Regions from separate parts of the Homo sapiens genome. Here region 1 is linked to region 2. The links come from fine-mapping of genetic effects on gene expression. A gene starts in region 2. The other region holds a variant in brackets. All regions are shown on one strand. Distances are from middle to middle.

Evidence for each region. PIP is the estimated chance that this variant, and not a neighbour inherited with it, causes the effect.
Region 1: its variant is fine-mapped to the expression of TRIM37 in whole blood (INTERVAL, PIP 0.96).

The regions. Positions count from the first base shown.
Region 1 is chr17:59,050,934-59,066,493 of GRCh38, forward strand. TRIM37 (tripartite motif containing 37) reads right to left here. Exons shown (of 24, transcript NM_015294.6): 10 at 13,422-13,472; 11 at 11,634-11,715; 12 at 10,099-10,175; 13 at 5,942-6,121; 14 at 281-395. It also overlaps the pseudogene RN7SL716P. Among named protein-coding and RNA genes, the nearest start is that of TRIM37, 48 kb to the right of the region's middle. The variant G/A (reference allele first, on the strand shown) is at 8,835.
Region 2 is chr17:59,095,128-59,110,641 of GRCh38, forward strand. It overlaps TRIM37 (tripartite motif containing 37), which reads right to left and starts at 11,753. Exons shown (of 24, transcript NM_015294.6): 1 at 11,314-11,753; 2 at 9,166-9,267. The coding sequence starts at 11,334. It overlaps SKA2 (spindle and kinetochore associated complex subunit 2), which reads right to left. Exons shown (of 4, transcript NM_182620.4): 4 at 14,730-15,514. LOC124904039 (a long non-coding RNA gene) reads left to right here and starts at 11,969. Exons shown (of 2, transcript XR_007065864.1): 1 at 11,969-12,464. RefSeq lists enhancers at 10,841-11,500, 11,157-11,206, 11,417-11,546, 11,501-12,160, 11,637-11,736 and 2 more and a silencer at 11,867-11,976.

The DNA of each region.
Region 1 (15,560 bases), 44 kb before region 2:
TGCACCACTGCACTCCAGCCTGGGCAACAGAGCGAGACTCCTTCTCAAAAAAAATAAATAAATAAAGTAAAATAAAAATTTACATGGCCGTATGTGGCTAGTGTCTACTAAACTGGACACTGCAGAACTGGTAAGGATGGGGAACAAGATAACTAGATTTTTTTTCTAATTACAAATTACAAAATTACAAATAGCAATAAAATATATAAAATCTAATTACAAATATAACAAGCCAAAAGGACAATAGGAAACACCAAAACAGAAATAGATATTTTCTTACCTCTTTAAGGTTGTTTATTTGTTGGATATAACTAGTCTGTGCAGCTTCCAACTGAGTAATGTACCAATGCTGGTCCCGGGATTTTTGAAAGAAAGTTGGTGAACGTACCTGAAACCTTAAAAGAATTGTGCCACATTAAAAAAAAAATTCAAATAGTAAAACATTATCAGTCTAGCACTGAATTCTGCAATTTGGGTTAACTTGATTATAAGGCCAAAATTCACATAAACTTAGAGCTGCTAGTATTTGTTGTTTATAGATGTAGTCCACAGATTATGACACAAGGTTCTGAAAAGCCAGTTGTCCTCAAACTACCTTTCTAAAGAAATAACATTGTACATTGTAGTTAAGCTTCCCAAACTAACCTACTCAGGCATATTTATTATAATAATGTAACTAAAATACAATGATGATCATGAGTTGGGAAGAAGAGAGCCATATACTATGCAGTTTCCTCCTATAAGGAGGAAGATAACTCTTATCCCTTTCTTCCCTAAATGAGGCCCCAGCAAAATACAAAGTTTTTTTTTTTTTTGAGACGGAGTCTCGCTCTGTCGCCCAGGCTGGAGTGCAGTGGCGGGATCTCGGCTCACTGCAAGCTCCACCTCCCGGGTTCACGCCATTCTCCTGCCTCAGCCTCCCAAGTAGCTGGGACTACAGGCGCCCGCCACTACGCCCGGCTAATTTTTTGTAGCAAAATACAAAGTTTTAAGTGCTGCTCTTTATATTTCTCTATTCCATCTCACGTTCCCGTATTTCCTGCCCCTCAGAAAAAAAATCACTTCCTGGCTCAACCACCCAGGATTGCTTTACTATCCCCCAAGGAGTTACATGCTCTAAATAAACTATATCCTGAACCCTTCAAGATAGCAATCAAAACTGCCCTTATTACAATATGGCATTATTTCAGCTTAGGTTAGGAAAAAAAGTACTGCACCTACATAAAATCGTATTAATATATAAATGACAGAATCTTAATCTATCCAGAGTTGTTTTAATTAAAAAAAAAAAAAAAACTATTACTAAAGCAAACAAACCTCTACCTTTGTTACATAGCCTAACGTGACTATATTTAAGGTGAAAAAATTGCAGTGCATGTGTGAAGGTGTTTTTGAAGAAAGGAAAAACCACAAGGCAAGACTAATTTGGACATCTACATCTCTCTCATTCCTTCCAGCCCTTTTACCCGGCTACACAATGTTAGCTGTTCATTTTTTTCTAGGATTTTACACCTTATTGTAAGAACCTACTGACCATTTAACAGTTATCTGGCAGTAGATATCTAGTTTTAGTGAAGAATACTAATGCAAGAAAGGACAGAACATAAACACTGACTATAAAACAACAGTCCTATTTAATGTTGGGATAGTCTTTATAGGTCAGAAGTTTTTGGGCATCATTATATGTTATAACTGGATGATCAAAATGAGAACTTGAGTATTAAAAAAAGAGAGAGATTGGCCGGGCACAGTGGCTCACACCTGTAATCTTAGCACTTTGGGAGGCCGAGGTGGGCAGATCACCTAAGGTCAGGAGTTCGAGACCAGCGTGGCCAACATGGTGAAACCCCGTCTCTACTAAAAGTACAAAAATTAGCCGGGTATGGTGGCGGGCGCCTGTAATCCCAGCTACTCAGGAGGCTGAGGCAGGAGAATCGCTTGAATCTGGGAGGCAAAGGTGGCAGTGAGCCGAGATCGCACCACTGCACTCCAGCCTGGGCAACAGAGCGAAACTCTGTCTCAAAAAATCAAATCAAATCAAATCAAATCAAATCAAATCAAATCAAATCAAGAGATTAAATTACGTTCTGAACGGAACTGAGTAGAGATGATTCACTCAACTGAGCAGAGACGATTCACAGTCTAGGAAGTACCCACTGGTAAGACATTAAAGTAAGACCGTCTAAACACTATTATTTTCTTTGAATGATTTAAACCACTGGTTAACTCTGCACATTAGTTCTAATATTTTGCCATTAAAACAAAACCAAGCAGCAGGTAAAATTTCTTAACTTTCTGTTTTAATGAAAGAATGAAACATACATTCATAGTTATAGAAAAGCCTTAAATAACTTTCTAATAAATACATACAAAATTCCACCAGAATCTTGAAATAAAAGGTTTAAAGTTTGAGCAATGTCTCATTAATAGGATAATGTGAAGCCCCCTATCCACAAACTTCATAGCAATTTACTTACGGTGCTACTATAGCATTATTTTATAATAAGAGAGTAGTAAATTCTGTTTTTATCTGCCAATTTCATCTTGAGTTCCCTGTGGACAAAAACCATGTCTATATTTTTCTTATTAGCAACTCAGTGTCAGGCATATGGTATAGACTCAATGTTGCTTAAAAAAAATGATGTCATAACAGGAATTTGTTTCTGTACTAATAAGTAACGCTAATAAGGATGAAATCAAGGCTATAAGAAAATGGGTCTTTTATAGGTTGGTAAAATTGATGTTTGAATAATTTTGTAATTCTCTCTATGGCTGAAGCATGAAATAGCAATAAATTATTTCTCTTGGTGAATAGTTAAACCCCAAAAGTCTGAAAAGCTATACGAAGAAAACTAAAATAATCCCTCCCCTCAAAAAACATGATTCCAGGCACCGTGGCATGCACCTGTAATCCTACCTACTTGGGAAGTTGAGACAGGAGGATCACTTGAGCCCGAGAATTCTAGACTAGACTGGGCAATATAGCAAGACACTGACTCTAAACAAAACAAAACAATAACAAAAACATATCTTTTTCCCTACACTGAAAATCATATCCCTTGTTAAACTTCTTTATACTTCCAGAAAAGCTACGGAAAACACATAAGAGTAAATGCTGATATGATAGCAACTCATCTGTCCAGTATGCTCAAGAACAAAGAGCTCCGAATAAGGGAAATTCAGGAGTACATTAAATCACTCTCAAGAAAAAAATGTTTAAAATTGTTGTGATGAGAACTTTTTAAACTGTTAAATACTCTGAAACTTCTCAGTTCAGAACATATTTTAATCTTTTTTAAATATTCAAGTTCTTATTTTGATCATCAAATTATAACATCATGTAATGATACCCAAAAACCTTTTTTTGTTTGTTTTTTGTTTTTTTAAGATGGAGTTTCACTCTTGTCGCCCAGGCTGGAGTGCACTGGTGAAATCTCGGCTCACTGCAACATCTGCCTCCCGGACTCAAGCGATTCAACTGCCTCAGCTTCCCAAGTAGCTGGGATTACAAGTGCCTGCCACCATGCCCAGCTAATTTTTGTATTTTTAGTAGAGACAGGGTTTCACCATGTTGCCCAGGCTGATCTTGAACTCCTGACCTCAGGTGATCCACCCACCTCAGCCTCCCAAAGTGCTGGGATTACAGGCGTGAGCCACGGCACCCAGCCAATGCCCAAAAACTTCTGACCTGTAAAGACTACCCCACGTTAAACAGGGCTGTTGTTTTTATTTACTTTATTATTATTTTTGAGATAGGGTCTTGCTATGTCGCCCAGGCTGGGGTGCAGTGGCATAATCTCGGTTCACTGCAACCTCCACCTGCCGGATTCAAGCGATTCTCCTGCCTTGGCCTCCTGAGTAGCTGGGATTACAGGCGCGTGCCACCACAGCCCGGCTAATTTTTGTATTTTTAGTAGAGATAGGATTTCACCATATTGGCCAGGCTGCTCTCAAACTCCTGAGCCCAAGTGATCTGCCTGCCTCAGCCTCCCAAAGTGCTGGGATTACAGGCGTGAGCCACCACACCTGGCTAAATAGGGCTGTTGTTTGAGTCAGTATTTACGTTCTATCCTTTCTTGTAAATACTACACCAACAATCAACAATAAAAATTGATGGTTTTGGCCAGACGTGGTGGCTCATGCCTATAATCCCAGCACTATGGGAGGCCGAAGTGGGTGGATCACCTGAGGTCGGGAGTTAGAAACCAGCCTGATCAACACGGAGAAACCCCATCTCTACTAAAAGTACAAAATTAGCCAGGCATGGTGGCGCGTGCCTGCAATCCCATCTACTCGGGAGGCTGAGGCAGGAGAATCGCTTGAACCTGGGAGGCAAAGGTTGCAGGGAGCCAAGATCGCGCCATTGCGCTCCAGCCTGGGCAACTAGAAACTCTGTCTCAAAAAAAAAAAAAAAAAAAAAAAAAAATTGATGGTTTTCGCAAATACCACATGTTCTCACTTATTATTTAAGAGCTAAATGGGCCGGGCGCAGTGGCTCAGGCCTGTAATCCCAGCACTTTGGAGGCTGAGGCAGGAGGCTCAAGAGGTCAGGAGATCGAGACCATCCTGGCTAACACGGTGGAACCCCATCTCTACTAAAAATACAAAAACAAAATTAGCCAGATGCAGTGGCAGGCACCTGTAGTCCCAGCTACTTGGGAGGCTGAGGCAGGAGAATGGTGTGAACCCGGGAGGCAGAGCTTGCAGTGAGCCGATATGTCGCCTCTGGGCGACAGAGGGAGACTCCATCTCAAAAAAAAAAAAAAAAAAAAAAAAGCTAAATGATGAGAACTCAAGGATATAACGAGGGGTAACAACAACAGACACTGGGGCCTACTTGAGGGTGGAGGGTGGGAGGAGGGAGAGGATAAGAAAAAATAACTATTGGGTACTAGGCTTAGTATCTGGGTGATGAAATAATCCGTACACCAAATCACCATGATGTGAGTTTACCTGTATAACAAACCTACACATGTACCCCTGAACCTAAAATAAAAGTTTAAGAAAAAAGTAGAAAATTGCTGGTTTTCGTCAACTTTCATCTTGACTCTTCTACTTTTAATTTGCTGTTATTGACAAAGAACTGATAGTTGCTTTATAAAATTAAGTTGTAAAACCAGTCACTCAAATATAATATGCACTGTGAAGTGAAAAAAATCAGCACTTTATCCCTCACTATTCTTAGATTTCCAAATGGTGAGGTCACTAGAAGTTCAACAGACAAATGGAACATTACTATACTTACTGGAAGTTGTAGTTTCCCACCCACCCCCTTTTTTTTTTCTTTTTAAAAAGATGGGGGGTCTCATAATGTTTCCTAAGCTGGTCTCAAACTCCTGGGCCCAAGCCGTCCTCCCATCTTAGCCTCCATAGTAGATGGAAACACCGGCGCACCACTGCACCCAGCTTATCTTTAATGGAATTGCTAACTAGATGTCAAAAAAAGTTTGACTTTTTGACTACAAATTTTTGATTATTATCCACTTAAATAAAACAGTTAAGAAAGTGATAAGGGGCCGGGCACGGTGGCTCACGCCTGTAATCCCAGCACTTTGGGAGGCCGAGGCGGGCGGATCACGAGGTCAGGAGATCGAGACCATCCTGGCTAAAACAGTGAAACCCCGTCTCTACTAAAAATAGTAAAAAATTAGCCAGGCGTGGTGGCGGGCGCCTGTAGTCCCAGCTACTCGGGAGGCTGAGGCAGGAGAATGGCGTGAACCCGGGAGGCGGAGCTTGTAGTGAGCCGAGATCGCGCCAGGGCGACAGAGCGAGACTATGTCTCCAAAAAAAAAAAAAAAAAAAAAAAAAAAAAAAGGTGATAAGGTTATAGTTAGTATGAATTTCAATATTCATCTTTGTTAACCAAATGATCTTTGAAATATAGTTCTGATGATATTATTTCCCCACAATAAAAACCACAACATCAAATTTTTCCTGTTACCTTAAAATCACTGTATCATTTTGTGGATTCAAGTATCCTTCATTTGCGAGTAAGTCCAAACGGAAAAATCTATTATAGCCCCAGCATTCTCCAACTTCAAAGTCAGATGCAAATTCTCGAATGATATTTTTTGTAGGATCATTACAGGACTGGTGAACCATCTCTACACGATATTCATATCTAAAATTGAAAAACAGACCATTACTATACAGTTAGTAAAGTAAGAATAAAAAACAAACTCATCTAAACATTAAGGTCACTAAGTAATTACCTGAGAAGAAACCTTATTGATATACGCAGTTACATTTCTTTTATCATTTATAAAAACAGCAGTATTTTGGGGTTTTTTTATTTATTTAAGATGGAGTTTCACTCTTGTTGCCCAGGCTGGAGTGCAATGGTGCAATTTCAGCTCACTGCATCCTCTGACTCCAGGTTCAAGTGATTCTCCTGCCTCGGCCTACAGAGTAGCTGAGATTACAGGCGTGTACCATGCTTAGCTAATTTTGTATTTTTAGTGGAGACGGGGGTTCATGTTGGCCAGGCTGGTCTTGAACTCCTGACCTCAGGTGATCCACCCACCTTGGCCTCCCAGTGTGCTGGGATTGCAGGCGTGAGCCACCACACCCGGCCAGAAAAAGAGCAGTATTTTTTTGTTTGCTTTTTTGAGATAGAGTCTCACTCTGTAGCCCAGGCTAGAGGGCAGTGGCGGGGTCTCAGCTCACTGCAACCTCTGCCCCCCAGTTCAAGTGATTCTGCTGCCTCAGCCTCCCAAGTAGCTGAGATTACAAGTGCACACCACCATGCCCAGCTAATTTTTTGTATTTTTAGTAGAGACAGGGTTTCATAATGTTGGACAGGCTAGTATCAAACTCTTGACCTCAGATGATCCACCCTCCTTGACCTCCCAAAGGGCTGGGATTACGGGTGTGAGCCACTGCGCCCAGCCAAAACAGCAGTATTTTGAACGAACCACCAAAACATGAATGGCAATAGGTCCTTTTTTCCTCGTAAAGATGTTTACCGATATATCAGGTATAAAACAACACCTCAAAAAATAAATAAATTTTGAATAAACAAGTAATTCAAAGTTGCTTTTGTTTTACTAATGCAATATTTTTTCCATATATTCACTACATATGTTTCCTCATAAATATTGTTATTTCTATTATCCTTTGAGGTTTATCACCTTGCAATTTTAAAATATAAATTTTGAAATACTCTACTGTATTTTGCCAGTACAAGTGATAAGAAAGCAAATTATTGTGTATTCAGAAAATCAAAGGCTATAAAATTTCCTAATAGAAAATAAGTATGCAGCCATAAAAAAGAACGAGATTATGTTTTTTGTGCAACATGGATGGATGGAGCTGGAGGCTATTATCCTCAGCAAACTAACACAGGAACAGAAAACCAAATACCACGTGTTCTCACTTATATTGTGGGAGCTAAATGATGAGAACTTATGAACACAAAGAAGGAAACAACAGACACTGGGGTATGCTTGAGGGCAGAGGGTGGGAAAAAGGAGAGGAGCAGAAAAGATAACTATTGGGTACTGGGCTTAATTCCTGGGTGATGAAATAATCTGTACAATGAACCCCCATGACATGAGTTTACCTATGTAACAAACCTTCATACGTAACACCAAACCTAAAATAAAAGTTAAAAAGAAAAGAAAAAGGAAAAAGAAAATAAGTAAGCTGGACACAGTGGCTAACACCTGTAATCCCAGCACTTTAAGAGACCGAGGTGGGCAGATCGCCTGAGCCCAGGAGTCTGAGACCAGCCTGGGCAACATGGCGAAACCCCGTCTCCATAAAAACAAAAAACAAAAAAATTAGCTGGGTACGGTAGTGCATTCCTGTAGTCCCAGCTACTTGGGAGACTGAGGCAGGAGGATCACCTGGGCCCAGGAGGTTGAGGCTGCAGTGAGCCATAATTGTGCCACTGTGCTCCAGCCTCAGTGACACAGCAAGACCCTGTCTCAAAAAGAAAAGAAGTATACATTGGGAAAGCCAATATATTCTAATTTATATATCCAATCTTGTAAAATTTTCAGGTTTACAAAAAGACAAAGAAGATAGCCTATAAACTTTTGTGCATTAATGCACATTATCAAGAAAATGAAAAGAAAACCTACCAAATGGGAGAAACTATTTGCAAATCATATGTCTGATAAAGGTTTAGTATCCAAAATATATAAAGAATTCTTGACCGGGCACAGTGGCACACACCTGTAATCCCAGCATTTTGGGAGGCTGAGGTGGGCGGATCACCTGAGGATACGAGTTCAAGACCAGCCTGGCCAATATGGTGAAACCCCGTTTCTACTAAAAATACAAAAATTGGCTGGGCGTGGTGGTGCATGCCTGTAATCCCAGCTATTTTGGGAGGCTGAGGCAGGAGAATTGCTTGAACCTGGGAGGCAGAGGTTGCAGTGAGCTGAGATCATGCCACTGTACTCCAAGCTGGGTGATAAAGTGAGACTCAAAATACATTAAGTAAATAAATAAATTGAGACAGGGTCTCACTCTGTCATTCAGGCTGGAGTGCAGTGGTGCGGACACAGCTCATTGCAGCCTCGACTTCCTGGGCTCAAGCAATCCTCCTGCCTCAGCCTCCTGAGTAGCTGAGACGTATGCAGGGTCTCACCATATTGCCCAGGCTGGTCTCAAATTCCTGGTCTCAAGCAATCCTCCTGCCTTGGCCTCCCAAAGTGCTGGGATTACAGGTATGGGCCAGCCAGTCTGGCATATTAACCTTTGACTGAACACAAGACACTGTAAATTTTACTCTGTTGGATGTTAGATACTTCAGCAACCTTATAAATTTTCTTGAGCTTCCTTCTGGGATGCAGTTAAGTTACTTGAAAACAATTTGATCCTTTCAG[G/A]TCTCACTTTTGTTAGGTGGGTCCAGAGCAGTGTTCAGTCTAGGGCTAATTTCTGCTATCGAGACAAAAACTTCCTTAGTGTTATACCCAATCAGTGACCCATGAATTATAAATTTCTCCACCGTGGCAGGTTGCAATAGACACAGTTCCTGGCCCCGTGTGAACACCAGTCACTCACTATTCCCTCTAATCCTGTCAAGGAGTTCTTTCCCCAATCTCAGGTAGTTTCCTCAGACATATGCCCTGATAAGTACTCTGCTGAATACTCAAGGGGAACCCATTACGGATCTCTAGACTTCAGTCTCTGCAGCTTTCTCCTCTCTGGTATTTTGTCCAATGCGCTCTAGCTGTATTGTCCTTTCTAGACTCTCAGCACTATCCCCTCAACTAAGTCTGCCAGATTCTCCCTCAGTCCCAGCTCCTCCCTGTGTTGCAGCCTGAAAACTCTCTCAAGGCTGTAAGCTGGAGAAATTGTAGAGTTAGTTTGTGTTTCTCATCTCTCAGGGACTACTTTCATTTGTTACCACCATGTCCAGTGTCTAGAAAATGTTGTTTCATGAGGTCTTTTTTTTTTTTTGGTTGTTGCAGGAAAATGGGTAGATCTCATCCCTCTTGCTTCATGTTAGCTGAAAGCAGACATTCCATACTAAACTAACAGATTTCATGTAACAGAGTTAAAAAAAAAAATCATTAATATGATTCCAGATCCCACATTGTAAATAACATTTAACAACCTACCACTTGTTCAGTTTGGATGTAATATCAAAGAAGATCCACAATTATCTAAAACCACTTTAAAAAATATTCCTCCTTGTCAAAAAGTACATTTGTGGTTCTCAGGGACTGAGGGAAACGGGGAATGGGAAGTGACTGCTAAGGAGTACAGGGATTCCTTGTGGAGTAAATAGAATGTTATAAAATTAGATGTTGGTGATGGTTGTAGAACTCTGCAGACAGATTTCATACATGTATTTCAATCAAAATGATATTTTAAAAAAATTGAATATAAAAGCAGACATGAGAATCCAGTAGTCTTCTTCTAAGCCAGATAGTAAAGAGATTTCTAAAAACGCAAAGCAATACAAGTTTTCTTAAAAATATTTTGTTTTTAGAAAAATACCATCCTATGATGCCAAGAACATATTATTCTACATCTTAACAGACATACCAATACAGTAATTAACAAAAATAAAAATTAACAAAAATTGCTAGGGGGAAGGTATGTAAATGCACATTAAGGTTGTTATTTAATTACACTTCTTACTTAGAAGTTTCAGGCAAGCCAGCTGAGAGCTCCAGAAACACAGATAAGTAGTAACCTCGCACAACTCCATTTCCATCCTAAAAGAAGAATAATCAGTTTGAGTGTAAAAAAATTAAGCCACAATAAAACAAAATGCAGATAATATCTGATATCTAGATTGAGAAGTACTTCTAAGCCTCAAAGCAATGGAAGAAATAATTAAAAACACCAATAGATTTGAGTTCTTAACAACTTTAAACTTTTGTGCATTAAAAAAAAAGTGAAACTATTAAGGCACAAAAATGAAGGGAAATATCAACAACCACAACAAAGGTTAAGAGTTTTAACATATATAGAACTCTTACAAATCAACCTTAATAAAAAAACAAGACCCTAATGGGAAAAATAATTTCATTAGAAATGAGTGAAGCAAAAAAAAATTTTAAACCAAAAATTAATTTTTAAGACCAACATACAAAAAGGTAATACCCTATGCTGAAAGTAATTAAATATAATTTCTATATGATTTTAATATTAGAATTCCATATAAGATTCTGTCTAGAGATTGAGAAGTTGTTTAAATCTCTACTATAGATTTTATTTTTATAAAGATAATTACTCCCTCCCTTTTTGTTTAATTTGGCAAGACTCTTTTAAAAAAAGAGAATTACTTCCTATGTATTTCCCTAGTACTTCAGGTGTCTATGTTTTAAAAGAATCACATTTATTATAACTACTTGTTTAAACATCTGTTCCCCCAACGAGACAATGAAGGCTGACAACAGAGATCCTTATACATCTCCAGTGTCTACTGGGATATGACTACAGAGAGGTACAAGTACTATTAACCCCTTCATTTTTAGTCTACTTTGCTTGAAAGGACCTGAGGCAACTTTTGAGGTTCGACATGATAATCACTCAGTAGATATCAATGAATAAATGACTCATCAGCTAGGTGAATAAAGCCAGACATAAAAGATGATATATTATTGTGTAATGCCATTATACAAAACTTTTCTAAAAAAAAAAAAATAATCTGAAACTACATATTGAAAGACTTCAATGTGTAACTGAGAATACTAACCCAGGAGGGCTAAAATGTGTAATAGTAAATTACTGGACTCAAAAAGATTATTTAGCATCTAGGCAATATCACCAAACATCTTTAAAGGTAAAGAAAATTAGTTTATTATCAGACTTTTCCTAAAGAAAATGGAATTGCATATTGAAGATACCCAATGAAAGAAAATATGAGCCAAGGATTTTATATCCAGCAATACTAGCCTTAGAATATAAAAGGCAAAAACTGTTTTCAACATATGAGAACTCAGGGAACATTGTTTCCAATAGGCCTTCCAGCAGAATGTATTAGAGAACAAGGTGTGGACAAACAAACAGTTGTCTAATATGGGGGAAGAAGGGGAACAGGGAATGCGGACAGCATATGTAACAAAAAAAAGAAGAGTTAACAGTTCTCAGTAATCAAATTAGTATACTACAGAACTCTGAAAGAAAGACCTTGGTTTCAAAATTTATTAGAAATATGAAAAACTTACTGGGTAAACTTTTAACCTCCAGCAAAGTCCTGAAACTTGAAGAGGTGGACTGTAAACAGGATCTGCTCTCTGACGCAAAGTGCTAACGAAAAAGAAAACCAACCAAATCCCAAGATCAAAACTGTTGTGAAATGGCAACAGGCAAAAAGAAAGACCAACCAGTTTCTTTGTTACATACTTGAAATCCTAGACAAATAACAAGGTGACTGAACAGGTCAAAATTCCACTGTAAAAGTTTAGATATGCTTACATCCTGAAATAAAGAAAATTTAAAGATACTGAAATATTCAGCAATATCTTTTAAGTTTCAGGGGAAAAAAAACCCTCAAAATTGTGACATTTAAGGGAAAAGGAATGTATCACCAAGTCTCCCAAAATTAATTAATGCTTCAACAAGCAGTCTTCACCATTAAAAATAAAACAAAACCCAGAATGTTTCTTCCTCGCTTCTCTGCAGTATAATCATCTTTTAATATTGAAGAACAAGAGTACACTAAACCTTAATACGTGTGGGAAAAACCTCAAAGAGACTATGTTTTAGCCACAAAAGTAACCCTAAGAAAAGACAAATTAAATGGGAAGAGGGATAAATTCTGTGTGGCTTTTTTTTTTTTTGAGATAGAGTTTTTTCAGACAGAGTTTTACTCTTGTTGCCCAGGCTGGAGCGCAGTGGCACGATCTCAGCTCACTGCAACCTCCACCTCCCGGTTTCAGGCAATTCTCCTGCCTCAGCCTCCCAAGTAGCTGGGATTACAGGCGCCCACCACCACGCCCAGCTAATTTTTGTATTTTTAGTAGAGACGGGGTTTACCATGTTGGCCAGGCTGGTCTTGAACTCCTGACCTCGATGATCCACCCGCCTTGGCCTCCCAAAGTGCTGGGATTACAAGCTTAAGCCACCATGCCCTGCCCAGTGTGGCCTTATTTTGATGGCCTTTGCCTATTATTTGGAGTTTCTCTCCTGAAGACCTTATAGTCCTTGTTTCCACTTCCATGCTGCCCTCAAAGACAAATTGCTAAGAACCTTTGCATGTTACGATCTTCACTTCTGATCTTAAGAGAAAAAGTAGTAAAAGCTAACAAAATTAACATACAACTGACAAAGCCTACACATTTCTTACAATAATGGCCCCTTATCCACAATTCTTCACTTTGAGCTGAGATAAATGGATCTCAATGGATTTCTTCCCAGCACTTTTATTTCTGAGGATAGGTAAGAGGGGGCTCATCAACCTCTAACTGTCCAGCCCCCCACCTTAGTCAAAGCTAAGTGATCTCTCTTATTTAAAATGGTTCCTCACTTTGGGCAGGGCACCGTGGCTAATGCCTATAATTCCAGCACTTTGGGAGGCTGAGGTGGGAGAATTACTGGAGCCCAGGAGTTTGAGACCAGCCTAGGAAACACAGTGAGACCCCATCTGTGTGGTGGCACACGCTTGTAGTCCCAGTTACTTGGGAGGCTGAGGTGGGAGGATTGCTGCAGCCCAGGAGGTTGAGGCTGCAGTGAGCAATGATCACGCCACTGCACTCCAGCCTGGGTGACAGAGCAAAACCCAGTCTCAAAATAAAAAGAAAAGGTTCCTTTTCCCAGACTAGAGAAGCAGTCAGTCTAAAGATACAATATAATCCAGCACAAATTATCTCTACATTTCTAATAGGAAACTTATTCTTCTAAGACTTCTAAAGTGAGTGACACAGTTCACTAGATTACTGTCTTACCAAAGAATACCTTTCTGGCTCTTCCTTATATACACATACAAAAAAACCAGAATTGTCAAAAACTCTTACCTGAAATTCTCTAAAACAAAAGTAGCTGAATCGTAAGATGGCACTAATTCACTAAAAAAAAAAAGGCAAAAAAAATTATTTAGCTTACATGTTTAAAATTCCATTTGCCTAAAAAAGCCAAGTCCCTCACTAGTATCTTAAAAACTTTATTAAACTAAAATCTAAGAAATATTTTTAAATCTTTATTGAACATAACATTAAATCAAATGAATTCATAAAACCATCAAGTTTGCAATTAAATTGGAGATACAAATACTTTATAAAAGTTTTTTGGCTGGGTGAGGTGGCTCACCCCTATAATCCCAGCACTCTGGGAGGCCAAGGTGGGTGGATCATCTGAGGTCGGGAGCTCAAGACCAGCATGGCCAACATGGTAAAACCCCATCTCTGTTAAAAATACACAAAAATTACCCAGATGTGGTGGTGTGCACCTGCAATCCCAGCTACTTGGGAGGCTGAGGCACGAGAATCACTTGAACCCTAGAGGTGGAGGTTGCGGTGATTCGAGATTGCACTACCACACATCTCTATTAAAAATACGCAAAAATTACCCAAATGTGGTGGTGTGCGCCTGCAATCCCAGCTACTTGGGAGGCTGAGGCACGAGAATCGCTTGAACCCCAGATGCGGAGGTTGCGGTGAATCAAGATTGCACTACCACACTCCAGCGAGGGCGACAGAGCCAGACTCTGTCTCAGTCAACCAATAAATCAATAAATAAATACTTTATAAAAGCTTTTTTTCCTAAAAGAAAAAAAGGCAACACATTATATAATTATTAAACTAAGTACAAGAAATACACTTTAAAAAGTACTCATGGAAATGGGAAAAAGAAACTGACGCTTAGGGTGTGAATCTGAATTATGAAACAGATATAAAACATCCTTTAAAAAATGAAACAACAGTCAGTGATAACACAATTAATCCCCAAACTTCCTACTCTGGAATGGATTATGGGAAATATTAACAGACCTCAAATACTTTGAAACTATTTACTAGCAAATAAATCTACACATTTTTATAGGATGAATACCTCATCACCTAAGGGGCAACTGTGATGGACTAGCACACTCACACTTTCTTGGCAAGTCAAAACTACTTCAAGCAACTTTAGTCCCATCCAATCTTCTTCAGAGAGAACTGTATTATAATCACAGAATGGACTAAAAGTCACTTTGCTGCTAACTACCTTTAATCATGTGGATGGTTTGTACACTTTCATTAGAACACCTCAAAACTCATTAAAACACTATACTATGAAAAAGACTATCATACGATGTTTTAATAGTGTTATAAATTTGATATATAAAATTACAAATTTCCCAAAACAATAAACTGCAAACCATTTCACCACATCTTCAGATATATTTTCTAAAGTTCAATTCATCATAATTTTGGTTATTATCAAAACAAGATAAAATATACATCTATAGCACTGCCACACTATGATAGTGTCTAAAGAAATTAGTGGCTTGCAATACAATATAGACAAATAATTCTTTATTTCAATGTAAGTACGTATAGCTAAATAGGTCACGTCTTTTACACAGTAAGCAGATGTACTTTGCCCTGTGATTAACTGTATAGCTACTATCCAAATTGACTATGTCAAGAATTCCTATGATATCCCTAGTCAGTTGTTATCCTTCTTAGAAGACTCACATTCCTCATCCCCATATCCTTTTGCCTGGTTAACCCTTACTATTTCTTCAGATAACAGATTAGAAGTCACATACTCTTGGAGGTTTGCTCTAAGGTCTTCCCATTATATGATCTCCTAGCACTCAACATACACAAACTCCAATTAGCAGGACCAATGCAATTAGTGCCTAGGAAGCCTTTCTGGAACCATAAACCTAGTAAGAGCTCTAAGGGAGTCTTCCCAGTATAGCCTTCAAATTTGACATGTTTTTGAAATTTTGTGCAACTTTCAATCAGGTCTCTCATCAAGTACAGAATATCCTCCACAACATGCAAAGACTTTAATCAATCCCCAGTTGCCTGCTAATCTGCATATTATTTCTTCTGCCATGTCCAGTGTAATTTATTTCCTGTGTTGTTGTTACTGTTATTTCTGCTCTAAGTCCAGACTATCATTATCATATTTTATTGGCCATTAAGGGTCAAAAGACTTCAGCA
Region 2 (15,514 bases):
GGATCAACTGAGTCCAGAGGTCAGGGCTGCAGTGAGCCATGATCATGCCACTGTCTCTAGCCTGGATGACAGAGCAAGACTCGGTCTCTTAAAAAAAAAAAATCCATAGACCATGAAGTTACTAGGAAGATGGTATAGCTATTATGGCAAAGATACCAAAGATAACGTTTCAAGAAAAACAGATGAAGTAATTTATGCTGAATGCTCCGAGAAGGAAAGATAAGGCCAACAAAAGGTTCATTGGATTTAGCAAAACTGAGTCTACACTTTGCAGGAGCTATGTGAGTAGTGTGGAGGGAGCTAAAGCCAAGTTAGAATGGGTTGAAGGGTAAGTAGATGGCAAGGTTGCAGGGAAATGGAGTGGAAAACACTCTTTTAAATACTTTTAGCTATAAGAGAAAACAGGCAGTAAATAGGAAATTTGTTAACAAAGGACTTTTATTCCCAAACAGCTCAAAATTGCAAGGAAACTAGGAGGCCGATCATAGAGGATCTTAGATGCCTTGTGAAAGCATACAAAATTTCTTACATCCCCTAATGTACTGTTTGAGGCAAACTATATATACATACAAAAACATGCTAAATACTTTCTGGGGTTGTTTTTGTTTTTGAGACAAGTCTCACTCTGTCACTCAGGCAGGAGAGCAGTGGCCCAAACACAGCTCACTGCAGCCTCAACCTCTTCATCTCAAGAGGTCCTCCCACCTGACCCTCTGAAGTAGCTGAGGCTACAGGTGTGCCCACCACATCCAGCTAATTTTTTAATTTTTTTTGCAGAGATGGGATCTTGCCATGTTGCTCAGCCTGGTCTTGAAGTCCTGGGCTCAAACAATCCTCCATCTTTGGGCCTCCCAACGTGCTGGGACTACAGGCATGAGCCACTGTGCCCAGACTAAAATAGTTTCTTACAAACATCTATACCACTAAACTATAACAAAAGTCCACTTCTTATGGTATGTCTACCAAAGAAAGGGAAAAGCTGTCCTTTTGTTCATTTCCAAAAACCTGTAAGAATGAGTAATTATCATAAAGATTGTATATATTAATTATCTAGCATACAGAACTAAATAAGCCAGATGGTAAATAAAATTACTGTTAGTGTAACAGGAGACCAAAAAAAGAGAGTTTAAAAAAAAAACATCAGCCGGGCACAGTGGCTCACGCCTGTAATCTCAATACTTTGGGAGGCCGAGGTGGGTGGATCACCTGGAGTCAGGAGTTCGAGACCAGCCTGGCCAACATGGTGAAACCCCGCCTCTACTAAAAATATAAAAATTAGCCAGGCATGGTGGTGGGTGCCTGTAATCCCAGCTACTCGGGAGGCTGAGGCAGGAGAATCGCTTGAACCCAGGAGGCAGAGGTTGCAATGAGCCAAGATCGTGCCACTGCACTACAGCCTGGGTGACAGTGAGACTCTGTCTCAAAAAAAAAAAAACAAAAAAAAAAAAACCAACTTTGTAACAGAAAACAAGGTCTTTAAGAAACATTAATTACAGCAATTATTAAAAATCTTAGATCATGGGCTCATGATTGATTAAATACTATTTCCAATGCCTAATCCTGCATTTGAAATTAATTAAAAATATAAGTATTTATTAAATTCCTTCCATTTCTTCAGAATATAATCAGAGATATCATTATTGACATGTACTGTGCATCCTCATTCATAATGCTATATGAAAAATTTTAATGTATATGTGGTCTGGGAGTTTAAGATATTTACTAGAGAAATTGTGCTAGGGAAATCCTCAACAAAATCCCAATAAAACTAATTCAACAGACTATTTAAAAAATTATACACTGTGGCCAAGTGGGATTTATTCCTAGAATAGAAAGATGATTCAACTACAAAAATCATTCAATGTAATAAACCACTTCATGGAAAACCCCCACTATGATCATCTCAATTGATGCAGAAAAGGCATCTGACAAAATCCAATATCCTTTCATGATAAAAATACTCAATAGAAATAGAAGGGAACTTCCTCAACTTGATAAAGGCCATATATAAAAACTCATAAAAATCATAGTCAACGATTCAAAGGCTAAAAACTCTTCCCCTTAAGATCAGGAAAAATTCCCCTTAAGATCAGGAAAAAGACAAGGATGCCAGCTTTTACCATTTCTATTTGACATAATACAGGTACTAAAAATTCCAGCCAGAGTACTTAGGCAAGATAAAGAAATAAAAAGTATCCTAATTAAAAAAGAAGTGAAATTATCTTTTTGCAGATGACATGATCTTATCTGTAAAAATCCCTAAAGAGTCCACAAAATATTGTTAAAGCTAATAAACACAACAGTTACAGGAGACAAACACACAAAAAACACTGGCATTTCTATAAGCTTGCAATGAACAATCTAAAAACGAAATTAAGAAAATAACACATTTGCAACAGCATCAAAAGGAATAAAATGCTTAGGGAAAAAAAAAACCAAGAATTTGAAAGACATACATGGAGGCTGAGTGTGGTGGCTCACACCTATAATCCCAGCATTGGGAGGCCAAGACAAGAGGGTCTCTTGAACCCAGGAAGTTGAGGCTGCAGTGAGCCATGATCGCATCACTGCACTCCAGCCTGGGTGACAGTGAGATCCTGTCTCAAAACAATAAAAAACAAAAAGAAAGACTTATACGTGCAAAACTACAATACACTGCTCAAAGAAGTTAAAGAAGTCCTAAATAAATGGAAAGACACCCATGTTCAAGGATCATAAGATTTAATATTGTTAAGACAGCAATATTACTCAAAGGCATGTACAGAATCAATGTAATCCCTACTAAAACTCCAATGGTACTTTTTATATTGGTAGAAAACTGCATTTAAAATTCACATGGAATCTCAAGGGATGCCAAATAGTCAAAACTATCTTGAAAAAGTTGGAGGACTCACACTTCCTAATTTCAAAACTTACTACAAAGCTACAGTAATCAAAACAGTGTGGTACTACCATAAGAACAGAAATAGAGACTAATAGAACAGAATAGAGAGGTAGAAATAAACAAAAATATTTTATGATTCCATTTATATGATGTACTTAGAATAGTCAATGTAAAGACAGAAGGTAGAATAGTGGTTAACAGGGGCTAGGGGGAAGAGAATAATGAGAATTTATTGTTTATCAAGTACAGAGTTTCAGTTTGGGATGATGAAAAAGTACTAAAGGTGGATAGTGGTGATGGCTGCACAACAATGTGAATGTACTTAATGCCGCTAAACAGTACACTTAAAAATACAGTTAAAATTGCAAATTTGGCTGGGCCAAGTGGCTCACATCTGTAATCCTAGCACTTGGGAGGCCAAGGCAGGCAGATCACTTGAGCCCAGGAGTTTGAGGCCAGCTTTGGCAACAAAGTAAAACCCTGTCTCTACAAAAAATAAAAAAATTAGCCAGGCACGATGGCACACACTTGTGGTCCCAGCTACTCAAGAGTGTGAAGCAGGCCAACTGCTTGAGCCCAAGAGATTGAGGCTGCAGTGAGCCATGATTGTGTCACTGTGCTCCAACGTGGGCAACAGAGTGAGACACTGTCTCATTTAAAAAAAAAAAAAAAAAAAGGCTAATTTTACATTAGGTATATTTTACCACAATTAAAAAAAAATTAACAGAATACCATATGACCCAGCAATTTCACTTCTAGATATATATTCAAAAGAAATGAAAGCAGGAACTCAAACAGATAATTGTTAACAACAGAACTATTAACAATATCCAATATCCAAAAAGTGAAAACAACCCAAGTGTCCATCAAGAGATAAAAATGGATAAATAGGCTAGGCGCGGTGGCTCAACGCCTGTAATCCCAGCACTTTGGGAGGCCAAGGAGGGTGGATCACCAGGTCAAGAGATCGACACCATCCTGGCCAACATGGTGAAACCCCATCTCTACTAAAAATACAAAAATTAGCTGGGTGTACTGGCGCACACCTGTAGTCCCAGCTACTCGGGAGGCTGAGGCAGCAGACTCGCTTGAACCTCGGAGGTGGAGGGTGTGGTGAGCCGAGATCGCACGATTGCACTCCAGCCTGGCGACAGAGCGAGGCTCTGTCTCAAAAAACAAAAAAACTTAAGAAAAAGGATAAACAAAAAGTGGTATATAGCCATGTGTCACATAAAGATGTTTCGGTAAATGATGGACCGCATATACTACAGTAGTCTCGTAAGATTAGAATGGAGCTGCCCTACATAGGTGTACCATTTTTTATCTTTTATACTGTATTTTTAATATACCTTTTCTATGTTTACTTATGTTTATTTTCTTTTTTCTTTTTTTTTAATGGGTACAGACTTTCTGTTTGGGGTGATGAAAGATTTTGGAAATAGTGATATGGTTGTATAACATTATGAATGTAATTAAAGACACCGAACTGTACCCTTAAATATGGGTAAAATGGAAAATTTTGTTATATTTATTTTAGCACAAAATGGGGGGCACTGAACAGACCCCTTACCAAAGACAACATATGGATGGTAAATAACTCCTGGAAAAGATGCTAACATCATTACTCAACAGAGAAACGCTAACTAAAACAAGGAGATACCTGTAAGAATGGCTACACGTCCCTGAGAATGGCTAAAATTCACAAAACCGAACACACCAACTGTTAGCATTAATGTGGAGGAATTGGAACTCTCATAAACTTCTGGTGAGAATGTAAAATTATAAAACTATTTCCTTTTTTTTCTTTTTGAGACAGAGTTTCGCTCTTGTTGCCCAGGCTGGAGTGCAATGGTGCGATCTCGGCTCACCACAACCTCCGCCTTCTGGATTCAAGTGATTCTCCTGCCTCAGGCTCCCAAGGAGCTGGGATTACAGACATGTACCACCAGGCCTGGCTAATTTTGTATTTTTGGTAGAGACAGAGTTCTCCATGTTGGTCAAGCTGGTCTCGAACTCCCGAATTCAGGTGATCCATCCACTTCGGCCTCCCAATCCTTTTTTTAATTTAACCTTCATCCCTCTCCTCCTCTCCCTCTTTTGAAGTCCCCAGTGTCTAGCATTTCCCCCTTTATGTCCATGTATGCTCATTGTTTAGCTCCCAGATACAAGTATTTTAGAAAATAGCTTGGCAATTTTCAAAATGTTAAACACACATCTACCACATAATCTCTATCCGTTCCATTACTAATTATTTACCCAAGAGAAAAGAAAGCTTCTTGTACACGAATGTTCGCAGCAATTTTCACTGTAATAGCAAAAACTGTAAACATGCCATATGCCCATCAACAGGTGAATGCATAAACAAATTGTGGTAAATACATACAATGGAATACTACTTAGCAATAAAAAGGAATACTACTGATACATACAGTATTTTTGCTGAGTGAAAAAAAGCCAGATCCGTAAGAGTACATATTGTATGATTTTCATTTGTATAAAATTCCAAAACATGCAAACTTATCTTTTTTCTCTTTTTCCATCCCCCTTATCTCTGAAGCAAACTTATCTATCGTGACAGAAAGCAGATCAATGGTTGCCTGGGGACAAGGCAAGTAGAGGGAGGAATTACCAAGAGGCACAAGGAAACTTTTGGGGATGACAGATATATTCACTAACTTGGATGCAATGATTGTCTCACAAGAATACATATATGTCAAAACTGTACACTTGGCCAGGCTCAGTGACTCACATCTGTAATCCTAGCACTTTGGGAGGCTGAGGTGGGTGGATCACCTGAGGTCAGGAGTTTGAGACCAACCTGACCAACATGGTGAAACCCTGTTTCTACTAAAAATACAAAATTAGTCAAGCGTGGTGATGCATGCCTATAATCCCAGCTACTTGGGAGGCTGAGGCAGGAGAATCACTCGAACCCAGGAGATGGAGGTTGCAGTGAGCGGAGATCGCGTCATTGCACTCCAGGCTGGGCAACAAGAGCAAAACGCCGTCTCAAAAAAAAAAAAAAAAGAACAAAACAAACAAAAAAACTGTACACTTTAAATATGTGTAGTTTACTGCATGTCAGTTATACCTAATAAAAAATGACTGGCTTGAAAACAAGTAGGCAAGCAATCAATATTTGCTGAATGAATGAACAAATGATTAGTGCATTCAGGAACCAAGACAGCCCTAGAAAGAAAGGTCAGAACCAGATCTGGATGGTCTGAACACAAGGCTAACATTCTTGGATTTTATCCTTTACATAATACATTTCTGAGGCTTCTGGGGAAAAGAAAGAGATATCAGTGAAAAATATTAATATAGTAGCAGGACAGAAAATGGACTGGAGATAAGAAAAGACTCAAACCTGAGAGATCAGACAGAAAGTAATTAAATAATCTAAGCATGAGGTAACCAATGTTCATACTTCTCTATTAGCATGGTAATGATAAAAACAGAAGGGTAAGACAAATATAAGTGAAACAGGGAGATAATAACTAATTGCACTTAAAAATCATTGGTATAGGCCAGAGGCAGCGGCTCATGCCTGTAATCCCAGCACTTTGGGAGGCCAAGGAGGGAAGATCAGTTGAGGTCAGGAGTTTGAGACCAGCCTGGGCAACATAGTGAAACCCCATCTCTACAAAAAAAAAAAAAAAAAAAAAAATATATATATATATATATACACACACACACACACACACACACACATATATACATATACATGTTTATATATATACATATATACACACACATATATACATATATATATACAAAAATAGCCGGGCATCATGGAGTGCGCTGATACTCCCAGCAACTTGAGAGGCTGAGGCAGGAAAATCTCTTGAACCTGGGAGGCGGAGGTCGTAGTGACCCAAGATCACGCCACTGCACTTTAGCCTGGGCAACAGAGCAAGAATCCATCTCAAAAAAAAATAAAAAATAAAAAATAAAAAAATCATTGGTATAAAGTTTCCAGTTTGAGTGACTAGCAGAACAGAACAAAAAGAATGAACTTAGAATCGGTTTGAGAAAATAATATGAATAATCTGATCTTGAACAAAGTTCAAGATGCTAGAAGGACAAGACATCCAAAAGTCAGTGCTGAAGGAATAGATTTAGGAGCCATACACACAGAGATGATAGCTAAAGCTGCTAAAGTAAATCAAATTTCCCAAAGTAGGTGAATACTCCCAGAAACCTCAGAGTAGAGAACGACAGCAACAAGATCTTAGGAAATTAAGAAATAAATGCATTTAAGGGGCAGGAGGAAGAAGATGTAACAATGAAAAAATACAGAATCAATGAGGCATAAGGTAACAACCAGAGACCATAAGCACATGGGACCTTCATCAAAAGAAATGCGCCCAGATCCAGATTCTACCACTTAATTAACTATAACGGAGTCCAATTACTTAATTTATCTAGCATCAGTTTCACTGTTTATTAAAACATGGGTAAGTGTTAATGTGTATTAGTTGCTATTTTAACAATAAAATAACACCTTACAAACAAGTAGATATAGTATTTCATAATTTCTGAATTACTCCTTAGGTTATCTCATTTAATGCCATAACCACCCTGTAAAGCAAATCATATCTGAATTCTACAGCTGAAGAAAGAAGGCCAAGAAAGAGTGAATCTCTTAGTTTTAGAAGTATGAGAACTAACATCATATTTAACTGGGTCTTCTGCGCATGGTACAGTGACAAAGAACAGGCTATAGAGTTCTTGAACTTAATGGGTTCAAATCCAGTACCATCAATTGTGAGCTGTGTGACTAGAAAAAAATTATTTAAGTGTTACGGATAATACTCTTGACAAAGGCATATGTATCTTCCTTAGGCAAGAATAAGGAAACAGAAATTTTTTTTTTTTTTGAGACGAAGTCTCGCTCTGTCGCCAGGCTGGAGTGCAGTGGCACCATCTCTGCTCACTGCAACCTCTGCCTCCCGGGTTCAAGTGATTCTCCTGTCTCAGCCTCTCGAGTAGCTGGGACTACAGGAGCATGCCACCATGCCTGGCTAATTTTTGTATTTTTAGCAGAGACAGGGTTTCACCATATTGGTCAGGATGGTCTCGAACTCCTGACCTCAGGTGATCCACACACCTCAGCCTCCCAAAATGCCGGGATTACAGGCGTGAGCTACCTACTGCGCCCAGCTGAAACAGAAAGTTTGAGGTGAAGAGCATGTGACCTCTTTGATTTTCTCAGGAAAATAAATAATTGAAGGGGAATGTGAACAAGGCAGTTTTCAACTATGCTCTGTAGATGTGCTATTGGACTCTCGCATACACAACCAAAATCTTGGACTTCCTCATTTTGTTATTTTGTTTTTTGTTTTTTTGAGACAGAGTCTCGCTCTGTCACCCAGGCTGGAGTGCACTGGCATGATCTCGGCTCACTGCAACCTCCGCCTCCTGGGTTCAAGCGATTCTCCTGCCTCAGCCTCCTGAGTAGCTGGGATTACAGGCACACACCACCATGCCCAGCTAATTTTTGTATTTTTAGTAGAGATGGGGTTTCACCATGTTGGTCAGGCTGTTCTCGAACTCCTGACACCATGATCCACCCGCCTCGGCCTCCCAAAGTGCTGGGATTACAGGCCTGGGCCACCGCGCTCAGGCCAACATTCAAGTTTTTTTTTTTTTTTTGAGACGGAGTCTCACTCTGTCGCCAGGCTGGAGTGCAGTGGCGCTCTCTCGGCTCACTGCAACCTCTGCCCTCCCGGGTTCAAACAATTCTCCTGCCTCAGCCTCCCAAGTAGCTGGGACACAGGTACATGCCACCATGCCCAGCTAATTTTTGTATTTTTAGTAGAGACAGGGTTTCACCATGTTGGCCAGGATGGTCTCGATCTCTTGACCTCGTGATCCACCTACCTCGGCCTCCCAAAGCACCAACACTCAAGTTTTAAAGCCACTAGATTATATTCATCTCTAGAGTGTCTTGTAATTGTAAGATTAAACACTTTTTCTCTATCTTACTCACCAAACACATATAAACCAGTCCTCTTCTGAGCCCCACAGCACTTCTTTAGTGCCTCCTTATGATACCGCACATTCTTCAAAATAAACATTCTAAACTCCATTCCCTCAATTAGATTTAAGCTCCTTCAAGGCAGGCAATTTGTCATTTATCTTAGTATTCCTCAACCCCAAGCACAGTGCAAGCAAGCACTTTAGGGCAAAAAATGTAAAATAAAAAGATAAGGGAAATGGTTAATCCTTACAATATATACTATATATACTAACTGCATGTAAAAAGAAATACAACTTACCCTAATACAGCTGAAACAACACAGTTTGGAGCAATGAGGACACAGGCGTGCATCCCGCAATTTCTCCATACAAATGAAACATCGGAAAACCTCAGCAATGCTCTGAAAACAGTAAAAGATGTAAGGTCCACCAGTTTAGGCTACTGAATCAAGAGTAAAAGGCAAGCTCAAAACAACTTGACATTTACATTTATTTTGGGCTGATCTCTCAATTTTAACTATTCCATATCAGGATTTGGTTGGTCAAGATACAGAGTACCTCAAAACATCTGGAAAATGTACTCCCGTTTGGTTTCACGATGATTCTATTCTAAGGAAAATATAGGAAATGCAAACACAGACATGCAGAAAAATTTTCACTAAAGCAGTAATTATAATGGCAAGAATCTAGGTACAGCCCAAATGTCCAAATATTAAGTAAATTATGGCAGTTACACATAGATTACAGTCACCAGAAATACTTCTTCATCTAATGATATAGAAAAATGCATATAATGTATAACAGCAGGGAAAAAAGGCCCAGGCATGATGGTTCATTACTGTAATCCTAGCACTTTGGGAGGCTGAGGCAGGTGGATCACTCGAGGTCGGGAGTTCGAGACCAACCTGGCCAAAATGGTTAAACCCCGTCTCTACTAAAAATACAAAAATTAGCCAGGCGTGGTGGTGTGCACCTGTAATCCCAGCTACACAGGAGGCTAAGGCAGAAGAATTGCTTGAACCTAGGAGGCGGAGGTTGCAGTGAGCCAAGAGGGTGCCACTGCACTCTAGCCTGGGTGACAGAGTGAGATTCTGTCTCAAAAAAAAAAAAAAAGAAAAAAGGAAAAAAGGCAGACTATATGACTGAATACACAACATGAACTTTTAACTTTTTCTGCAATTTCCCCAAAAGGTATAAACTGATTTTATAATTTAGAGGAAAAAGAAGTTTAAAAAGACACATCCTAAAGGCAGTGTACTGTGACCCAGAAAAAAATGAATTCAGAATCCAGAAATCTGAATTGCTGCCCTGATGTTACAACAGACTAGCTACTTATTTGAACCTGAGATTCTGCCCCAATTGAAAATGTTGACGGTAGTTCAAAGCGATCTTGGGAACAACAACAACAAAAATATGTAAATACAAGAAACAGTATTATGTTTGCAAGCCTCAATTTAATCAATTTAGGAAGTAACTGAAAAGTTTTTAACAAGAAAAAGGATACAATTAAACGTATACTTATTGTATTGTATACTTTGTTTTTATATTACTGACATTTACTTTCACTCCATTCTAGAATTAAACCCTCCTAAAACCAAGATAAGTTTACAAAACCTTTATAATACTTTATATGAGGAATTAAGGAGAAAATTACTCATTAATCTCATCATGACTCTGTAGGGCCAGAAAGAACCTGGGAGATGCAGATTCTGTAACCTGCAACGGGGTGGACAATAAGACTACTGAATGACTAGTTTCAAGTGGAATATCCATAACATAGTTACCCCTTACTAAAAAGCAAGGATTTCCTATTTCAGTATCTGAAAGGTTCAAAATTTGATAATGATTACACAATTATGTTCAATAAACAATCTTTTAAAATATATTCCTAGCCTTTACTTACATATCCTACATATCCCAACTATTTTAACTCACAGCTTACAAGAATCAGTTATAAAAAGAAGAGTTTGTTCTGGAAACTACACATGAGATAATATATGCTGATTCAATCTAGGAAGGAAGGGCAGAAGCCTGCAAAATGTGCCACTGAGAGGGAAAGATGACTATCCATTTGGAAGGAGATTTAGATCAGCTCAAGAACTCGCAAGGACTGGTGGCGAGTGGCAGGGTACATCCATCTGATGAATCTGCAGTTTTGGTCGGAAAAGGATGCTGTTTGCAAACACCCGGTGGGGATGAGTACCTGTGCCAAGACATCCTTGAAAACTCCAGGATACGCACCACCTGACTGCGGAACAGTGAGCACAAGACACCCGGAGCGCTGCAGAATGGGCACGGCATCCTTGGTACCGGGCCAGCCCTCTCCACAGCGGCAGGGGCGGGGTAGGGGTGCCCTACTGGAGGGAGGACATGGGCACGACTCCCCGAATAAAAACCGCTCATCGGGTGGGGGCGGGGACTAACCACCACCCTCACAACCCCCTCACCTCCACGCTCTGTTCATCCATTGCCTCCGGCTCTCGGCGGGGCCGCTGGCGACCCGCAGGCTCCGCAGTCTGACCTCTTAGGCGCCGGCCCGAGGTCGCCAGATCAAATCGCCGATAAAAGCCCGGCGCCCACGTCAGGGGGCTCTGACAACCGCCCCACCTGCGCGCCCCATCTCTTCAGGTCCAGCGCCGCCTACCCCCATTTCGCCATTTTTACCGGCGCGCCCGCCCCGAGGCGCAGAAGTAGGGCGAACGGTGGCCGCAGCTCCTTTCTCCCGGCTCAGCCGCCGGCCAGCAGCCGCGCCGGAACCTCGGCCCACGTGACGCGGGCGCGCGCCTATGGAACTGACGGTGGAGTTCAGCGAAGAAGGTGCCGCAGAGAATTCGCAAACACCAACCGTAACCAGAGCAGCTGGGGGCGCGGCGGCGAGAGAAGCTGCGAAGCGCATGCGCGCAGGACGCTGTGGGAGGGGAAAGGAGGGGAGGAGCGTGGAGCGATCGCCTAGTTCCCGCGTTGCGGGGCGCATACGAGACTTGGCGACTCGCTGCCTCAGGGTTGCGTGCCTCCGGCCCTAGCCTGCGCAGGCGGCCTGAGCTTGGGGCTCTGCTACGCCACCCACGCCCACCTTGGCGGAGGGCGGGGCCCCACGGCTCTCAAACTTGCGCGCCAAAGACGGAGCCACCTGGCGTACTGGTGGAAAGCGCAGACTTCAGAGCCACACCCGTAGTTAAGTATTCGGACTCTGAGATTCCAGGGTGGGGCCCAGGCCATCCGCGTTTTCACCCAGCATCGTGTGATTCGGCAGCAGGTGGTCTGTGGCCCGCACTTTGAGAAACCCTGGTGCAGAAGGTTCATGGTTAGTGGTTCTCTCTGGAAGGAACAGTCTAAGGTTTGTAGGACTTGCGTTCCACCTACCAAAGCTAATCGAGTTAGAAGGCTCCAAACTGAGGTGTCATTTCTCATTACGGTGGTGAGAGGACGGGACCACACACTGTGAAGTCTTCGTTCCCACATCCCACACTTCATTCTTGCCGCCTAAGTTGTCGCCGTGGGACTATTGAAAGGGTATCAGCGATATTCATCTTTCCTATAAATGGGATCTGCTTTCTACAGTTTCCTGCCAGATGTGTAAAGATTGCAAGAATTGAAGGTTTGTGAGACAAAGAGGGCATATCAAATTCGTAATTTGAATTTAATTTTTCCTGTATTTATTGCAAACAACTAATTATACTTAACCGACCTAGAGTGCACATGTAGAGAATCACTAATAATCTAGAAATAAGTTCTTGAATATCAGGCATTTAGGCTTATAGGTGGTGGGTAGCAACAATTTTTTTTAACTACTTGGGTCATGAACAAGATATAATTTAGAAAGATTAATCTGAGACTGAAAAATTCTTTCAGTAAGAATTATTTGTGGTCTTTGACCTACATGGAGCTATTTTTACGAAAATGGCCTCAGTTGTACATTTTTAAATGGTTGATGGTTAATATTATGAGAATTTTACTTAAAAGAATTATTTATAGAATGCAGTGCTAGGCCTGGCGTGGTGGCTCACACCTGTAATCCCAGCACTTTGGGAGGCCGAGGCTGGCGAATCACCTGAGGTCGGGAGTTCGAGACCAGCCTGACCAACATGGAGAAACCCCGTCTCTACTAAAAATACAAAATTAGCCGGGCGTGGTGGCGCATGCCTGTAATCCCAGCTACTGGGGAGGCTGAGGCAGAAGAATCGCTCGAACCCAGGAGGCGGAGGTTGCGGTGAGCCGAGATCGCGCCATTGCACTCCAACCTGGGCAACAAGAGTGAAACTCCGTCTCAAAAAAAAAAAAAAAAAAAATGCAATGCTGTACTTGGGATTCAGAGTAATGAGAAGTGGCCCTTGCTCTCAAGGAGCAGTACAGAAGACAAATAAGACAAATTGCAATACTTACATGATAAATAGTTAAGATTCTTGTATGTTTGCCGAAGAACCTAAGAATGTCGAAGGACTTATTGCACCAATTCATAATAGCGAACAATTAGAAACCTGTACAGCTGATTAGAGGCCGTTGGTTGCAAGCAAAAAGGATAACTTGAGCAAAATAAATAATTTAGTTGGCAAGATGCTAAACTCACATCGTTTGCCAAGCCCTGGGGTTTGAGAGCCAACGGTCTGCTCCATCAGAATCCCTTAAAGGCTGACCTTGCTGCCCTCCCCACAAGAAAAATCTCCTAACTTCATACATATCCTTAAATAACTTGCTGTTATACAACTTACTTGTTATATTATTTGTATAACTTGCTGTTATAGAGCTTAAATGTCTATCACTAAGGAACTGATAAAAATGACTATATATCTAGCTGGGCATGGTGGTGCACACCTGTGGTCCCAGCTACTCTGGAGGCTGAGATGGAAGGATCACTTGAGCCCAGGAATTTGAGGCTGCAGTGATCCAAGATCACACCACTGCACTCCAGCCTGGGCAACACAGCCAGATCCTGTCTAAAATTAAAAAAAAAAAAAAAGTATGGTATAGCCATATAATGGATTACAGCTGTTAAAAAGAAGGGTGGATGTGTGACATAACAAAAATATATTAGAATTGAAGACCGGGCACAGTGGCTCATGTATCCCAGGACTTTGGGAAGCTGAGGCTGGCAGATCTCTTGAGCCCAGGAGTTGGAGACCAGCCTGGGCAACATAATGAAACCAAGTCCTACAAAATATACAAAAATTAGCAGGGGTTGGTGGCATGCATCTGTGGTCCCAGCTACTTGGGAGGCTGAGGCAAGAGGATTGCTTGAGCCCTGGAGGCTGCAGTGAGCCATGATAGCAACACTGCATTCTACCCTGGGTGACAGAGCGAGACCCTCTCTCAAATAAAATAATGAAATGAAAAAAAATCTAAGTACAGCAGCAGTACAAGGCATAGTATCAACCTACTTTTGTTGAAAAAAATTTTTTTTAGTTTGTATACATGTAGAAATGCCTGAAGCAATTATTTGCAGATTACCTCTAGATAATTTATATGCCTGTTTTGTTGTTGTTTTTTTTTTGTTTTTTTGGGTTTTTGTTTTTTTTTTTTTTGAGACAGAGTCTCACTCTGTCGCCAGGCCGGAGTGCAGTGGCGCAATCTCAGCTCACTGCAACCTCCGCCTCCTGGGTTCAAGCGATTCCCCTGCCTCAGCCTCCCGAGTAGCTGGGACTACAGGCACGTGCCACCACACCCAGCTAATTTTTGTAATTTTAGTAGAGACAGGGTTTCACCATGTTGGCCAGGATGGTCTCCATCTTTTGACCTTGTGATCTGCCCGACTCGACCTCCCAAAGTGCTGGGATTACAGGCGTGAGCCACCATGCCCGGCCATGCCTGTGATTTTTAAATTCTTAAACATGTATTATTTATAACTTAAGACATAAAGACACTATAGTCACATAGGAGAAAACAATTATAATCCAAATGAGAAACAAAAGATCTAAATTAAGGAGGTGTGAAGATAATGTAGAGGTTGTATACTATGACCATTTTAGAAAGAGGATTGTAGGTTTTATTGACTAAGAAGATAAAGGGATGCAAATTAGTTATACAGGTTTTAATTCCAGACAACAGAATAGTGGCTATTAACAATAAAATCAGTAAGTATTCTGGACATGTTTAACTTGAATATTCAGGTAGGGGATTTTATTGGAAATACGGATCTAGAGCTAGTGGAAGAAGTTATATTTAGGAGTCATCCACAAAGAGGCTTGAGAAACAAATGAAAATGTATTGAGAAGTGCATAGAGAACAATGTTAAGGGGGCTGTGGGGAAAAAACAACATTTGGAAGATAACTGAAGGAAATCATAGAGGAAAAATAGTACAATCTAATTTTTCTCCCTAACTGAAAGCAAAACCACTTTTAATACTAAGAATTTATTATGATCTCTCCATGATACTACCGTTTTTTCAATCCCAACAATCATCATCACATCCCAGAGCCATCTCATGACAAGAGCTTTCTAAATACTAATTGCCTGAACACTGAAGAAAATTAATATCTGATACTAAGGTGTAACTTATTTCTCTGTAATTAAAAAAAAGGGGGCCAGGCACGGTAGCTCATGCCTGTAATCCCAGCACTTTGGGAGGCCGAGGTGGGTGGATCACCATCAGGAGTTAAAGACCAGCCTGGTCAAGATGGTGAAGCCCCATCTCTACTAAAAATACAAAAAAA